Linked DNA regions of Homo sapiens: region 1 is linked to region 2. Evidence: fine-mapped expression QTL. Tissue or cell type: whole blood. Region 2 holds a variant in brackets; the other region holds the start of a gene. All regions are shown on one strand. Distances are between the middles of the regions. Region 1 holds the start of CDC42EP3 (CDC42 effector protein 3). Region 2 has its middle 36 kb from the start of CDC42EP3.

What was found. PIP is the estimated chance that this variant, and not a neighbour inherited with it, causes the effect.
Region 1: it holds the start of CDC42EP3, and the variant in region 2 is fine-mapped to the expression of CDC42EP3 in whole blood (TOPMed, PIP above 0.99).

What each region holds. Positions count from the first base shown.
Region 1 is chr2:37,666,409-37,674,742 of GRCh38, reverse strand. CDC42EP3 (CDC42 effector protein 3) reads left to right here and starts at 3,101. Exons shown (of 2, transcript NM_006449.5): 1 at 3,101-3,317. RefSeq lists silencers at 2,123-2,292, 2,513-2,582, 2,593-2,652, 2,823-3,312.
Region 2 is chr2:37,631,572-37,639,905 of GRCh38, reverse strand. No RefSeq gene overlaps it. Among named protein-coding and RNA genes, the nearest start is that of CDC42EP3, 36 kb to the left of the region's middle. RefSeq lists enhancers at 4,013-4,242, 5,775-5,844, 5,865-6,064. The variant T/G (reference allele first, on the strand shown) is at 4,332.

The DNA of each region.
Region 1 (8,334 bases), 35 kb before region 2:
CTGTGAGAATCTTCTCTTAACTCCTCCAGCTGACACTGAGTCAATCTTCTTTGTGACTAGGGGGTCTTAACCTAGGACTTCCCTGGCATCAATAGATTATTTACAGGAACTCTGAAACTGCATATGAAAAATTTTGTGTATCAATCAATATGCTTTTCCAAGGGTGCTCATAAATCCCATGAGATTTTCAAATGAGTTTGTAGCTTTGAAAGGTGGAGAACCACCAAGCACTCATGGACGGTGCTTCTCAAACATTAAATCTGCACGCAAACTATCCACATTTCATTAGACTGAAGATTCCAACTTGGTAGCCCTGGAGTGAGGCTTGGTGCTGCTGGTCCTGGGACCATACTTGGTAGCAAGAGACTAGAATGTGGTCAGCATTTGCTTGTGTACACTGGCAAGGTGCTCTCTGCACTTAGGTAGATCACAGGTTTCTGGACAGCAAGGGCACTGACAATACTACTTGGCTTTTCTCCCAAGTAGGGACTAATAGAAAAACAGCCCACTGTTGGGCCTGACAGGTGGTCTACAGATACCAGGCTTCTAAGGTTACCACCAAATGTTTTTAAGGCTAAACCTTTCCAAAATTCACAGCAGAATCTCAAAACTCCTAAAATCTTCCTGAAGCAAAGCTTTTTCCTCTCTTCCGGTAGTAGACTCCCATAACATGTTGAAACCTAAATCCATCAACTCTACAAGCTATCATAGTTAGCACAGGAAATGCACTCATTTGGAAGAATAATTCACTATATGAGGGATCAGTTACTCACTGAAGATGTTCAGTACAAAGAAATAACGTGAGGCACAGGGCATGGTGGCTCATGCCTGTAATCCCAGCACTTTCGGAGGCTGAGGCAGAAGGATCACTTGAGGCCAGGAGTTTGAGACCCTGGGGGAAAAAAAAAAAAAAGGAAAGGAAGGGAAGGGGAGGGGAGGGAAGCGGAGGGGTGGGGAGGGGAGGGCAGGGGAGGGGTGGGGAGGCGAGGCCAAAGGAGCCAAGATAAATCAAACCACCAGGCCCTTGAATGAGCAGGTCCTGGATAACTGTTTAGAGTCCAGCAGTGAAGTCTCATTTAAAAACGGCAGAGGGAGAGAAAGCCTCTAAAAGGCAAGGGATAATGTAGAAAAGTAAAAATAGGTTTTAGAATAAAAATGCCGTTTCAGACAAACTGCCACTCTATATTTGCAAAAACTGTAAAAGAAGTTATTTATTTGGCCATGTAGAAATAAAGTGCTTTTAACAGCAGCTAACAATAGATCACGTGAAAAAAATTACATACAAGACATGTGTGTCGGGAATGTCTTTATGTGTTCAAAAGGAATTTTGCATGTGGTATTTTATATATATACACATATTATTTGGACTTATAAAATACCCTATGTAATGAAAACTATGCATAAATATTTATAAAAATACCTTTTTCTAAGTAGGCCAGGAACATTTAATATTTTTCAATAAATTAATATATAAAATATATACATTAGTGCCAAATGGAACATATATTTTGAAATATGAAACCCAAGTAAAATGCTCAGGAATCTGGAGTAGAATCCAGGTATCTGCCAAAGGAAACTTTGGACGAGTTGTCTTTTGAAGAAGGGAAACAATGCTGGGTCTCTTATCTTCACGGACTGTTTTTGCTTGTCAAACTTCTAACATCACTTCAGCCGAGTTTCGTATTTGACTTCCAACCTCATGGCCATTTGACCTGCCAACTACTATTTTTCTTTGAGGCTTTTAACACCCCACCCAAGTATTTTGCTTTCCAGATTGTGTGCGTTTCCTTTTCACTTCACCTTAAAGTCAGCCTGGGTTTACAACATCGGCTTAAGGCGCACCCTCTAAGGTTTCAGACAGACCCAGGGCACCGCGGTGATGACCTGAAGCTGATATCTCTCGGCAAAGCCAAGGTATCCGGGAGGTTCTCCGCGTTGTGCCAGGATTTCCATCCAACCCGAGAGTCTCAGGGCAGAGGCCAGGCCCCCAGCGTCCGACTCCCAGGGGTCCCAGCCCCCTCCCCTGGCTGACCATGCGGGCTGGGACCTCCCAGCCGGAAAACACCGCCCTTTCCTGTCGCCTACTCCTTCCCCAGGCCGACGACTCGCGGAGGAGGAAGAGACGGAGGCCGATTAAGAAAATTAGCATTCATTAACCCGGTTCACGCTCCGGCCCCGGCGGAGGGGAGGGGCGCGCCGGGCGGCGGCGCTGGCGGTGGCCGGGTGACCGGCGGGCGCAGGTGCCACCGCGGCCTGAATTTTACTCTCTCGGGCCGGCAGCTGCGCCACTTGCGCCTCGTCGCGCGTCTGGGGCAGCCGCCACCGGCTTGCCCCAGCTTTAGGCAAATCCTTTTGAAAGACCCTGAGGGAGAAGAAACGCCTCCCTCTGGGTAGGAGAACCTGTAGCGTCTGCTGTTCGTCGCGTGTCCAGTTGCTCAGCCGGGAGCTCCGGCATCTTCAGGGCGCTTATTCCACTCTCCGGGTTTTGGCTGCAGCTCTGAGGGGAGCGAGCTAGAAACTGACAGAACGCGACCCTCCCCCTCCGCGCCCACCGGAGCCCGGGCTGAGAGGGACCTGGGGAGCTGCGGCCTGGCCGGGGCGGCGCACTCAGGTGGCCTCGCTTCCCTGCGGGTCACCGCCCGCCACTCGCACAGCTAGGTCGGCCTGTTGGGATCGGGAGAGGTGGGCGCACGAGTTTTAGTGCGGGAGTCCGGGGTGCGGGCGGAGTCCTATTGTCCCCGTGCACCCGGGCGGCAGCACCTCCGGGTCCCTCTTTAAACCGAGCGTCCGGCGACCTTTCTTTGTGCTTAGGGAGTCGAAAGCGGCATCTTCTCCGAGAGAAGTCGCCTACTGGGGGGTGGCGCTGGGGAGGTAACAATGGGCGCCCATTGTCCTCCGAGGGTCCAACGGTGACCCCCCCCCGCGCGCGCGCCCGGCCACCGGTTGGCCCCGGGCCAGGGCACAGGTACCGCGGCTGGGAGGGTCGGCCCCGCTGCCCGCGCCCTCCGCCCCGCCCCAGTGAGTCCCCGCGCCGCCGGCCCCGCCCCGCGCCGCCCCGCCCTCCGCAGGTTCAGTCCTCGCGTCCGGCCGCCCCGCGCTCAGTCGCGCGCACCTTCTCTCGCGGCCGGGGGACCGCAGCGCGGGGCTAGCCCGGAGACCCGGCCACCGGCCTGGGGCGCCTTCACGCCGTCTCGGAGCGGATAATGCGGTGAGCAGGCACCACGCCGGCAGACTCGGCTGGATCTGCGCACAGCGGCAGGGATTGCGTGCGCCCGCGGGAGGCCCGGGGCAGCGGCTGGGATCCTCAGCGGCGGCCGGTGAGTCGGGGCAGCCCAGGGCTCCTTCCTCTCTACCTGTCTGTGAGTCTGTCCCGCCCGCGGCCGTGGCCGCTTCCGGCGTGCGCTGGTGTTAGGCTGGGAAACCAGCAGGGAGTCGGGATACCCAGGGCATCGCTTTCCCATCTAGTGTCCAACGGAACGAAGGGGACATAAAGCAAGCCAGGAGGGGGTCCGGCGGCACGACCAGGACTCAGAGCTCCACCATTTGTGCCCACTACTTTTCAGGGTGGGGCTGCGCGGCCACATTGCACCCTCCGAGCTATTGGCAGAGCCATTCTGGGCGCGTATAGCATTTTTCCATCTGAGAACAAGCCGCGCTTGGCTACCGCGCCCCTCGCATCATGGATTGGTACCAGGGCCGCACATGGGTGCATCGCACAGCTCTGCCGTGGCATCGCCTGCCCGGTGCCCTCCTCTTTCTTAATGGAGGACATTGTTAGTGGGGCGCCAACCTGCAGATCTGGATATTGACTTTTTTGTTTTTTGACGGTGAACAGCTGAGACGTTTACAAGGTTTTTTGTTTTTTGTTTTCTTCCCTTTCTCCTTGAAACTAAGTGGCTTGACACAGACAAGTATCAGACATGTGAGGATGAATGGATCTGGCCATTTTTTCGTTATGAATTATTATACTCTATCCCTCTCTCGACTTTGGGAGGCATGTGTTTCATCTTATAAATAGAAAGTAGCATATTTTTGGGCAGGATCTCCTTTATACTGTGCAGTCTAGGAGAGGTCAGTTTAAAAATAAATATGCACTTGAATGTTACATTACTGAGAGCCAGGCTGTGGCTGGGACAAGCTGCGTGGACAGCAGCATCAAAGCCGGGAGCGCAGCTGTGTTGAAAGGAGTAAAAGCCCCAGAGTGCAGCCTAGGCTGACAGTCAAGTAATTACATTTTGTTTAAAAAAAAAAAAAAAAAAAGTGAGCGAATTAAAATGAGGAATGTCAGGAGGGTATTGCAACATGAATCTTTCCAGCCCTGGCGTATTTGGAGGAGTGGGCTGCTGCTGTGTGCTGAGGTTGTAGGGGGGCTCTAGGGAGGGAACTGATGAATGTGTTAGGGAGACAAAGATTCCATCCCCATCTCCCAGCTCTTAATTCTCACAATATCCAAGAGTTTCTTGGGAGTACTGCCTTTTAAAAGGAACAAAAATTAGGAGAGCAGCAGATGTCTGTATTTTAATAGCAAAGCCAGTTTTAGGGACTTCCTGTTAACATCACAGGGAGAAAAAAGACTCACCAGGAACCAGCGATGATGCCCCAAAGGTATCCCTAAGACAATTTAAAAGGCTCCTGTAATGTTCTAATTTACACAAGCTCTTTCATCTTAAAACCAGGAAATGTACCTTCTCTTCTTTTCTGGACAGTTCCAGAAGTCTACTCTTTCATACCCCCTGCAATTTGTGTGAGCTCTTATTGGTAGTTAATAAGCTACACAGGTATGTGTGTGATGCATACCCTTTTCAGAATAGATTTAGACACTCAGAAATAAGTTGGAGTAGTTGTGAAATATTTAGCATTTTCATATGTGAAATAAATGATAAAGGCCCTTTCTATAGTCAAGGAATGGTTGAAATTCTTCATAAAGTCTCCCAAAGAATGCGGGTTTCCCAATGGGCCTCACCCATTTGAATAAAACAGCACCAGCCTCTGGGCTCACAGATAAGAACTTTAGAGGAGAAATTTGGAAGCATTTCTGGATCCATGGCAGTTTCTGTTTTCCAATGGCATCATCTGCTAGAGATTTACATGATGAATTCTATGATTAGAACATGGTGCTGAGGCTGTGGCAGCAGCTACAGGCTTGAAATGAGATGAGCTCCTCTTTCCCTCAATCTGAGCAGTGAAATTGTTTCACGTATCTCTATGGAACAAGTAAAAGCAGCTAGAGTAATAAGTGTTGCACACTTTTTGCTTTTTATTGCACATTTAAGTGCGGTGCAAGATGAATAAATACAAAGCCGTAACAGTGATTGCAGAAGGGCTCACATGAGTTCATTTGCCCTGTCTGCGCTCCAGCCTTTCCTTTAATGTGGTGTTTTGTTTTATGTCCAACATGCTCACAAAAGCTGTGCTTTTTTCATGTATAAAGTTCCTGGTATTCAACAGTGTTGGGGATAAAATTGCTTTCACCTGTATCACCCAAAGATTTTTTTTTTTTTTTTTTTTTAGCCAGGCCATAGATTTTTCACAAATTCTTTGACCATTAACTGTAACATTTATCCAGTGGGTGGAATATAATTCGTAACCTAAAAACCTCCAAGAAGACTGCTCTGATCGTATTATTATTATTATTATTGTTATTCAGATTCTTGCTTTCAGTCAGATTTTATCTAGGCCCAGTCTCATTTCTTACTAACCAGAATCCTGTGAACCTGTATTTCTTTTCATTGATTGAATGAGAAATCTATTTTTAAATGCAGTATGTTTGCCAGAGAACAAGGATAGCCATTTGAAAATACTGGATTCAGCCAGCCACAAAATCTTGTGTGCCTCACCAAGCCATAGAAGACCAAGAATTTTCCTAATATATTGCATTGTTCATTACTTTGGATGTTAAAAGCACTTCCTAAGTGGAGCCCGTCCTATGTGTCAAGCACTCTTCTCAGCCTTTTGTCTTGATTATCTTACTTGTTTCTAGCAATCATCTAATGAAAGAACCGTTGTATCCCCATTTTGCTGGTGTAGAGACTGAGGATAGACCAGTTATATAACTTACCCAAAGTTGTGCAGTAAGCAAAACCTAAACATGCGTGTGCAGTTTAACAACACAATATGTGCAGGCATGAGTGGCTAATCCTATGTGAAAGTCAGCAGCTCTTTGGGTTAAGGGGATGGGAAAAAAAACTGAACTTCTGAAGCCTCCGAGTCAGGCTGCCTGGGCACATGTCCTAGTTCTGGCACTTAACACCTGTGTGACTTTGGGCAAGTTACCTCACCTTTACCTCAGTTTATCCTTTGTAAAATGGAGATAATATTATTTCCCTGAGGATTAAAGGAGTTAAAAAAGATTATGTACTCAGAACAGTGCCTGGCCCAGAGTAGCCACAATAAAAGGTTGAGGTTTTCAATGTTGCTTTTGTTTTTTTCCTAGGTACTTAATACTGGTTCTGTCATGTAATATTCATAACTATTCTTTGAGAGAGATAGTACAGTGGTCCCCAATTACCCGTGGTTTTCTTTTCCAGGGTTTCAGTTACCCATAGTCAACCATGGTCTGAAAATAGGTGAATATGGGGCATTTTAAGAAAGAAAGAGACCATATTCATGTAATTTTTATTACATTGTTATAATTATTCTATTGTTAATCTCTTACTGTGCCTACTTTACAAATTAAACTTTATAACAGGTATGTATGTATAAAAAACAACATAGTATATATGGGGTTCAGTACTGTCCAAGGTTCAGGCACCCACTGGGGGTCTTGGAACATATCCGTGGAGGATAAGGCAGACTATTATATTGCTCTTCTTTTCCAGATGAGAACACAGGCTCAGAAAGGTTTAGTAACGTGGCCAAGGTCACACAGCTAAATAGCAGAAGCAGGGTTTGAACTCAGGTCTTTTTGACCTTATACTAAATACCACACCCCCACCAATGGGGAGGAGGGGCAGAGAAGTTGTTAAATCTGATTTTTGTTATGACTTTTGGCCTCTGGCAAGGAAATAATTTCATATCACCCTGTATCTCACAGTTGAAGATGACAGTAATTGCCAGCCTTGAGGAACACTATGTAAATTATTTTATTATTAAAGATGATTCAATCCCACATATGTGGCATGAAAGTGGATCTAGCATGAACACTGCTAGGGTTAACATAAGCAGTTTAATTTATGCCATAAACGAAGAGATTTACTAGGTGAAAATGTGGGACTATATGGTGAGAAAGCAAGCCAAGCCACAGCCAGGGACAAGGACTTCTGGTGGCTGGGGATGAAGTGAAGCTCTAGCATAGACTGTGTGCTCGCTTCAAAATTCTGGGGAGCCCGGGGTTGCAGAGTCCAGTAACCACCTGTGGACAATCCCCTCCTTGAAGGCAGGAACCACACTACCTGGGCCTTCAGTCCCGGCACTCAGTGGACGTTTTAGTCCATGTTTGTTGATGATGTTGCTGCAAGAACTCAGCAGAAGAGGAGCTACAGGTAAAGTGAACAGAAAGGCACTGGGCTGTGTCCATGGCAGAAGTCAAGCCCTGTTACAGTTCAGCATATCCCCTGGGCCCTGCTAGATAAGAAACACACAACAAGGAAACCTTTGAAACCTTGTCCTTACTGCTTGCCCCGGAAAACCCACAGGGCCTGCCTTGGCCTCCACTGCTTTGATGCTCTGGGTTTGTGATTAGCTGTGGGGATCAGCTCCAGAGACTTCTCAGATGGAAACAGGGTTCTGGAAAGGACAGTCCGAAGTAACTCAGGTAGCCTCAAAGCCAATGGTTACAGTCTTGGAGCTGTCCAATTCCATTTGAAATCTTCTCCTGTCCCCACCTCTTAAAGGCTACAAAACAAAACAATACCCCACAAACCAGAATAAGTAGCCATGTAGTTCTAAAGCAATAGTCAGGTGTGTTTCTTTCCTTAAAAAAAAAAAAAAGCTTTCTCCTTGATATACTTCAGTGCCAAGTTTCATCAGAATCACATGATGATGGACTGAATTTGACAGTACCTCTGGTAGAAAAGCAGTTTTCAAATTTTAACCATACAGTTTTATAATACAAAGCATGATGCTGAGATTTAAAAGATTACTATTTCTAAATAGCCAAGTAAACTGTGTGAAAGCTGATGAGTTCCAAACTAGTGTTTGCTTAGTCCTTACTGCTTGCCTAAGTCATGAATTAATAGAATTCTAGAATCCCAAATTTAAAACTTTTTAAAAAGGATTTTCAGTGGATTGGGTTTTATTTCCATATTGGATAAAGTTATTATTAGCCTTCTAGCCTTTGGCCCTTTGTTAAACCATGTTGCAGAGATCACACACCTGCAATTAGGTAACAGGGTA
Region 2 (8,334 bases):
TGAAAAGATTCTTTCATTACATTTGGGTCTCGAAAATCCCAACAAAGAAACCCTTTGAGGTACTGTGTCCATAGAAAATTCCCATCTTTAAGTCCCAGGAAATGTGCATTAAAACTCCAAAGGATGTCATCCTTATACCCATGGGCAGCATTGTTACAAGTGAAATAGGCAGAACTTGTGTGACCCTAGAAAAACAGTACTGCTCAAAACAATTTCTTCTACACTCAGCTGCCCCAGGGCTAGAAAAATCTACCCTTGGAGATGGGTTCCTTTTTAGGTGAGGCTTTTTCTATTAGGCATGGAGTCCCCTTAGAATAATTCCAGGAGTAACAACATCTGCAAGCCACCAACAGTGAAAAGTGAACTCACTTATCAGATGCCCACTGTGGGAGCACAAGTCTCTAGCAACTGGCCTGGGACCAGGTAGCAAGAGAGACCAGGAAAAACATGAAGAGTGAGTTCATGTAATGCATAATTTTGCCTGGGACCAAAGAAAAATGGGCAGTGATGAGCTTTTCTGAGAGATTTACCTGAGAGCAAATGTGGCCTTCACCAGAAGAGATAATGAAGGTTATTGTTGGCCGGTCTCCCTAGTGCCAGAAGATCACTTGTAATTAAACCTAATTTTGAATCAACCAAATTAGATGGTACAGGAGATTAATATAAAACTCTCCATAACTGACATGTTTCCATACACCCTACAGGCCAGAAGGCTTCAAGACAGTAATGCCTTCGATGCCAAATGCTCATGTTTCTAAGTCACTGTCTGGTCTTTCCTCTGCCTCATCCCCCACTCTTAACAGTAGCATCTTAATGACATGATTGCATTGAGGAGATTATTATTTTCTCCTGACATCTCCTTTATAAGTTCTTTCTGCGTTGTAAGGTAAACCATTAGCAATGCCCCAGAAACAGATGAAACTTCAAAAGGCTTGAAACGACATTAAAAATTACATATTGAGTTTTTCAGAATAAGCAGTAATGTTCAGACACAACTTTGTACCGTAAGCAGGGGCATTGTTAAAAGTAGGAAAAGGAAATTGGTAATTATCTTCCAAACCTGACTCCCATTTCATGAAAATGAAATTGGGATGGGACTAGAAGCAAGAAACAAAACACCTGTGGTGCTCTGGAAGATTTTTCCACCATAAATGGCAAGAAGGAAGAACAGACAAACACAATCTTAGATTAGCAGCCAATAAAGTCCTCCCATCCTAGTACCAGATCATGGCTCCTATGACTAAATAAAGCACTATTTGTGAAGCTTCAGTAATCGCCCTCTTTTTAAAAAAAAAATATAAAGAGGTAGGTTCACCGTTGATTAAAATTGCTCATTTTCAATACATCTGGCACTCTGGACTTCACAAACATGTTGACTATTCATCAGGTACCTTAGGTAACTGAGAGGAAAAATTGTAAAAGTGTCACGATAGCAAAACACAAGAAGCAGACCTGGTTGTATAAGTCCAGGGAAAATGGGACCTTCTTACCAGAGCCCACACTCCTGAAGACTCTTCTAACCAGAAGTAAACAAAGTATTCAAAGTGAAATGGCTTCCGGGAGTGGGATGCCCACCCCTCTTAACCAGCCATGAGATAAAAATGCATGGGAGAAACTTCTTCCAACCCCTGGATCATCTGAAACCTCACCTCCCCAGGGAGACTCCTTGGCTCCCTAGTCCCCAGCCCCTCCCCTCAGGCGAAGGTCATGTGGGAGGACAGAGCCAAGGCTCTAGATTATGGTATGAAGGGTGTGATCTTGTCTGAACACACCCAGCAAAAACATCTTTGTGTCTCCTGCCCTTGCAACAAGGGCTCTTTTTGTAGGTCAGCTGTTAAACATCAAATGATACATCATTTGTTTAAACATCAAATGATATATTATGAACAATACTCCTGTGGCTGGTGGAATAATGGCCCCCAAGATAGGAGATTCTAATGTCTGGAACTTATAAATGTCACCTTATTTGGTAAAAGGGGCCTTACAGATATGATTAAGTTAAGGATCTTGAGATGGGGCATTAGTCTGGATTATCTGGGTGGACCCTAAATGCAATCACGATTGTCCCTATAAGAGAGAGGCAAAGGGAAATTTGACCAGAAGAGGAGTAGACAATGTGACCACAGAGGATGGATTGATGCATCCAGAAATCAAGGAATGCTGCCAGCCACCAAAAAGTGAAAAAGGCAAGGGACAGATTTCCCCCTAGAGCCTCTGGAGGGAGTACAGCCTTGCTGACAGCTTGATTTCGGCCCAGTGACACCGATTTCAGACTTCTGGCCTCTAGAACTGTGAGACAATAAATTTCTGTTGTTTATAGCCACCAAGTTTTTAGTAATTTGCTAAAGCAATTATAGGAAACTGATGCAATACCCAAGCACTGGAGAGAATACAGAAAAATGGAAAACGTTAAGGATAATGAGGTGGACTGAACTGTGTTCCCTTAAAATTCATATGTTGAAGCCCTAACCCTCAGTGTGACTATATTTGGAGCTAAAGCCTTTGAAGAAGTAATTAAGGCTGAATGAGCTCATAAGGGTGGGACCCTAATTGGATAGGACTCACGTCCTTATAAAAAGGGGAAGAGACATTAGGGATGCACACACACAGATGAAAGGCCATGGGAGGACACAACAAGAAGGTGGCCATCTGCAAGCCAAAGAAAGAGGTCTCAGGAGAAACCAAACCTGCTGGCACCTTGATCTTGATCTCCAAAACTGTGAGACAATTAGTTTCTGTTGTTTAAGTCACGCAGTTCATGGTACTGGCAACTGCAGCCCTAGCCAACTAATACAGAGGGTTAACAGGGAAGACCCCCTTGAAGAGTTAGGTTCTTTAAGGAGATAAGGCCAGGATGACCCCACTTCCCAGGACTTTAGTCTTCCCTTAAGGAGTTTACACTGATTTAGTGGTGCTCTGGCTGGTGACAAGGAAGAGGAGAACATTCCAGGCAAAGGATCAGCAGGAGAAAAGTCTAGCCCTGCATTAACATTACAAGAAAGCATCTCCCACTACCAGAGCACAAGAGAAAGCTGCTTTCATGTGGCACAGGTTCAAGCAGGGTAACAGTGTCTAATCAGACACAGGTGTGTTGCCTGAGCCCAGAGGCTAAGTAGACTACCTTTAGGAGGGTCACTGTCACTCACAGTTGATCACTGGGGCATAACTTTAATCAAGCGTATGCATGGTGGGCAGACTTAGGGGAGACGGGGGGAAATAAAATATTTAAAACATGTTTTGAGGCTTGTTTCCAGCCCCAGACAGCATTTGATATGGGCAGAGGCCAGATTCAATCCCTGTCATCCAGATAACAACAAAAGAGAGGCAGAAAAGACTGTAGAGAGGATGCTTCATTGTTGCTAGGGAGATTGTCTTCCAGGAGCTCTTTGCCTAAGAAGTGTTTCTTCCACACAGATGCCAGGCAAAGTTAAATAGGCCTTCCCAGTATGCAGAGGGCAAATTGAACAAGAGGCCAGAGAGTTTGCTGAGACCCAACAGTGATGCGGGGGGCGTTTAAATACCATTCAGGAAGCCAAGTGACAGAGAGACAGCCAATGTGCTGGAGGTGGGGCCCCATCAGGCAGTGCTTCCCATATCATGACAAAGAAAATTATGACATTGGGACAGCACCATGGGGAAATGAAAGGGCTGTTGTGGCTGGCCTGGGCCCCACCTACCTGCCACAGGTGCTGAGGGTACAATGCCTCAGTGTCCTCATAGCACATTTGACACCTAAGGTTTGTATTGTGGGAAGCCTCTCCTCAGAGTACATCATCTCACTGGCCCCTGGCTATTTACGGGACTACCCTGTAGCTCTCCTGAGGGCTCCGAGTCCTCTCTGAAGGCACAAGTGGGTGAAGGAGTGGGGATACCAAATGTCGCACCATGTGAGACATGACTGCCCTGGTGGCAGTGGGGGTGGCAGTGAGTGGGGCACAGCAAATCCTCCACCTCTAACAGGGGTGATGTGGTTTGGCTACATCCCCAGCCAAATCTCATCTTGAATTGTAGTTCCCGTAATCCCCACGTGTCATGGGAGGGACCCAGCAGGAGATAATTGAATCATGGGGGCAGTTACCCTCATGTTGTTCTCATGATAGTGAGTTCTCACAAGATCTGATGTTTTTATATAAGGGGTTTTCCCCCTTTGCACTTCTCTCTCCTGCTGCCACGTGAAGGACATGTTTGCTTCCGCTTCTGCCATGACCATAAGTTTCCTGAGGCAACCCCAGTCCTGCAGAACTATGAGTCAATTCAACCTCTTTCCTTTATAAATTACCCAGTCTCGGGTATTGCTTCATAGCAGTATGAGAACAGACTGACACAAGAGG[T/G]GAATAAACCCAGAGCAAACCCAGAAAGGCCTGGGAGCCCCAGGAGCCAACTGGTGATTTAAGAAAGAGCAGAAGTGTTCAGTGTGACAGAGATAAGAGAAGGAGTAGAACTGAGACTCTGCCTCTGACTACATGACAACAGTCTTTACCAGTCTCACTGACTGGGGGCTTCTGCAGAGAATATGCTCGAGTCCCTACCTCTGAAAAACAAACACAGCCCTGCCTCAAAAACGTGAGCCACTTCCACAACCTCGAAAGGGGCATTTACACCAATGTCTCCATTTGCTCACCTCACATTCACTGAGTCACTTTCCTCCAGATCTACTGCCACCGTTCACTGAAGCTGCGCTCAGCAGTCACCAATGAACCACCTTCCTAAAGTCACAGATGTTCCCCACCCTACCTCCCTTTCTTCTCTTCTCTGCAGCACTTGACTCTCCAGGGCACTGCTGCTCCTCTCACTCCCTTCTCTCTGGTTTTCCTTCTCTCCCACCAACTACACCACTGTGAATCCTTCCCGGTTCTTCTTCGACTACTGACCCCATTGCTACCACGCACCCTAGGGTCATTCTCATTCTTCTGTTTGGTGATGTCTTGTTTCAGAGCTTCAACTGCCATCTATTTTCTGATGACTCCCACATCTCTATCTCCTGCCCAAATACAACTCCTGGGCTTCAGACCTGAATATCCAGATGAGCCCTGGACATCTCTGCTTGTTTGGCCTGCCAGAACCCCAAATTTACCATATTTCAAATCAAGTTCACCACCAACAAAAATATGCTTCCATCCTCCTTCTCCTGTGCTTGTGAGTGACAATACCATCCAGCCAGCTTCTCAGGACAAAACCCGGGAAGTGACTCCTTTTTCCACACAACCCTCTTCTTTTGCCTCCTAAATATTTCTCATGTCCAATCTCTTTTCTCCAATCCCACTGCCACTGACTCCATTCAGGCCCTCATCATACCTTGCTTCTATTATATAGCAACAGCTTCCTAACTATTTCACTGTCTTTAGAATGACCCCTGCCAATGTTTTTCCTTTTTAATTTTGAGTGATGGGCTCTAAAAATATTTTTTAGATACTATATTTTAAAAAATATTTTAAGCTTCTCTAACTGAACATCTAAACCCATAAAGTCCCTAATTAACAACCTTCAGAAACTCTCCTTTACCATACAAAGCCCAAATTCCTAAACAGGTATACAAGGCCCTCCATGAACTGTTTGTGCTAGTGGCACAACCTGGATGTAAAATCCAATGAATAAATGAAAGTCAAATACTCACTCTGCCCAACACCCTAATATGAATTAGGAATTCAATTCCACAAAGAAGGTGGAATTGAATCTATGCTGCTAAGGGTAAAGTGGGTTAGCTGTATTAGTCTGTTCTCATGCTGCTAATGGAGCAACATAACAGAGACTAGATAGTTGATTAAATATACAGGAAAGAGGTTTAATTGACTCACACTTCTGCAGGGCTGGGGAGGCCTCAGGAAAGAGAATCACGGCAGAAATGGAAGCAAACACACCCTTCTTCACATGGTGGCAGCAAGAAGAAGTGCAGAGAGAAGGAGGGGAAAAGCCCCTATAAAACCATCAGATCTCATGAGAACTTACTATCACGAGAACAGCATGCAGGTAAACACCACCATGATTCGATTACCTCCCACTGGGTCCCTCCCATGACACATGGGGATTATGGGAACTACAATTCAAGATAAGATTTGGGTAGGGACACGGTCAAACCATATCAGAGGAGGAAAGAAGATAAGCATCCTTGCTCCTGATTGGGGCACTTCATTCAGAACTTCTTCCTTTAAAATGCAACTTTCTTAGAACAGAGATCACTTCTCTCTTTTTCCTTCCTGGCAGCTGATAGGATAAGATTGGATGGAGGCCTCCTTATGGTTGGAAAGCGGCATCCTCTTTTTTCCCTCTGTTAGAAAACCAAGCAGGAACCAGGTAGAGTCCAGGAGAGAACATCCAAAGATGGATGTCATCTCAATTGCTTCCGAGTTCAGAGGAGGCAAAGGGTTCTTACATCTTGCCCACAGATTGACCCAAGTTCATGACCTGGAACAGGCACTTTTGTGAGGTGTCAAGGACAAAGCCCTAGCTGGTAATAAACAGCATGTTCTTATCCTGGAGTATTCCTCAGGAAATTACTGTGGTAGCAGGAAACCAGACAGGATTTGGGTTTTTAAAACCTTGCCTATCTTATCTTTGTAGATGTGACTAACTAGTAGGTCTTCAAACTGCCCCCAAGTAGGCATAAACCTTTGGGTCACCCAACATTATACTGGCTCTCCTAAAAAAAAAACATGTTATGTAGCCCTAATAACCTAGAGCTCCATGGGGACTGATCTCAGTGCAGTTACAGTGAAAAAACAAACAAATCAAGATGTAGCAACAAAGAAGAATTAAAGCATTTAGAATATTTATATTCTTCTCTTAAAGAACTCCAAAGAAAATCCAATTCATAATCCATAGCTCTGCTAGAATTTTCCTGGGGGGTATGGGGAAGAAGAGGAAGAGGGGCTATGAAGACTTATGCATTAATCTTTTTTATCTATTGTATTGCATAATAAATTTGTCTATAATCACAAAGAAGGTCTTTGCCTTAAGTCCTTATTCCCTCTCACAGTTATTGTAAGAGCCTCTGATTCCAATAGTGCCCACTCTTAAGTCACCACCCTGACTAAAGGTCCTTATGAGGTCTCCATAGCTAGGAGACAAAGTCCAAACAAAGTCTTGAAAATGGCACTCAAGTCCCTTCGCCTTCTGGCCTCAATCTACACATCCCACGTTACTTATGCCACCAGCCACACACATTTAGCTTCCCCCTCATTTACCATTGCAGAACTCCCCAAATACCCGTCTTTTCAGCCTTTCTGTCTTTGCATGAACTCCTTTTTTACTAACCCGTTAAAACCTCTGTCACCTTCTCTGTGAAGCCTGTGTTAGAATCAGTTGTTCTCTCCTCTTGGGCTGCACTGCACTTTGCAGAGGTCCCACTATTCAGTGGGTCCCCCACAGTGATACAATCAAGTCCATCCTCCTGGTGAGAGGGCACATTCCTCCAACCTGACTCCCAGCCCAGCACAGAAGCTATTGCTGAATGAAGGATGAAAGAATGAATAAACAGATAAAAAGCAGAGACTAAAATTAATGCTTACCAAAAACTAATTTTTTTTATTAGTCCACAAGAAATGGCTTATCAGTAGTCTTTACCAGGTACAAGAAATGCCATAAATTCTGAAAAAGAGTTTTGAGAAAAGAACAAAGTACTATATATTTTGCCAGTGTATTAAAATGATAGAGACTAATAGGACTGAAACATTTTTAAGAAATATATACTTACAAATATGTCTATGGATCTGGATTATTTTTCCATATTTACAAGTTTTAGTTATTTACCTTATAAAAGAAAATAGCCCTATAGAAAGTTATTATCATTTGCTTCAATAAGATACAGCCATTATAGGCTTTTAAAATGTTGTTTGCTTAAAGGACGAGAATGTGATTTGGCTCCTGCAAGCACTTAAGAGTTCTGAACAAGCCTAAACAAACATTTTTAATCAGTGTTAGTGCTTTAAGAAATTTTTAATCTGCCACTTAAGAGACACTAATGTACAAATTGGCAAAAAAGAAAATAAAAACCTGTCACCTTTCCCACACATTATCTAAATGTGCTAAAGCAAATGCATTTCAGATACCCTGCCCTGCTGTGCATGAACACATAATAGGATAGGACGTCATCAGTGACTGAGCGTATCTCCTAATTGGTGTCATCAGCTATTTCTAGGACAGCCAAATAGTGTCAGAGATAAAGAAATATAAATTATCTGTGAAAACAAAGAGGTACGACATGTAAAAATTGGATGTAGTACCTCCTGATCCAAAACAAAAAAATGGATCTTAGGCTACCCAAATATTTTTAAATGATATAAAATGTTATTTTAGGTCAATAGCTTTCTATAGTCAGAATGTGGACATACGGGGATG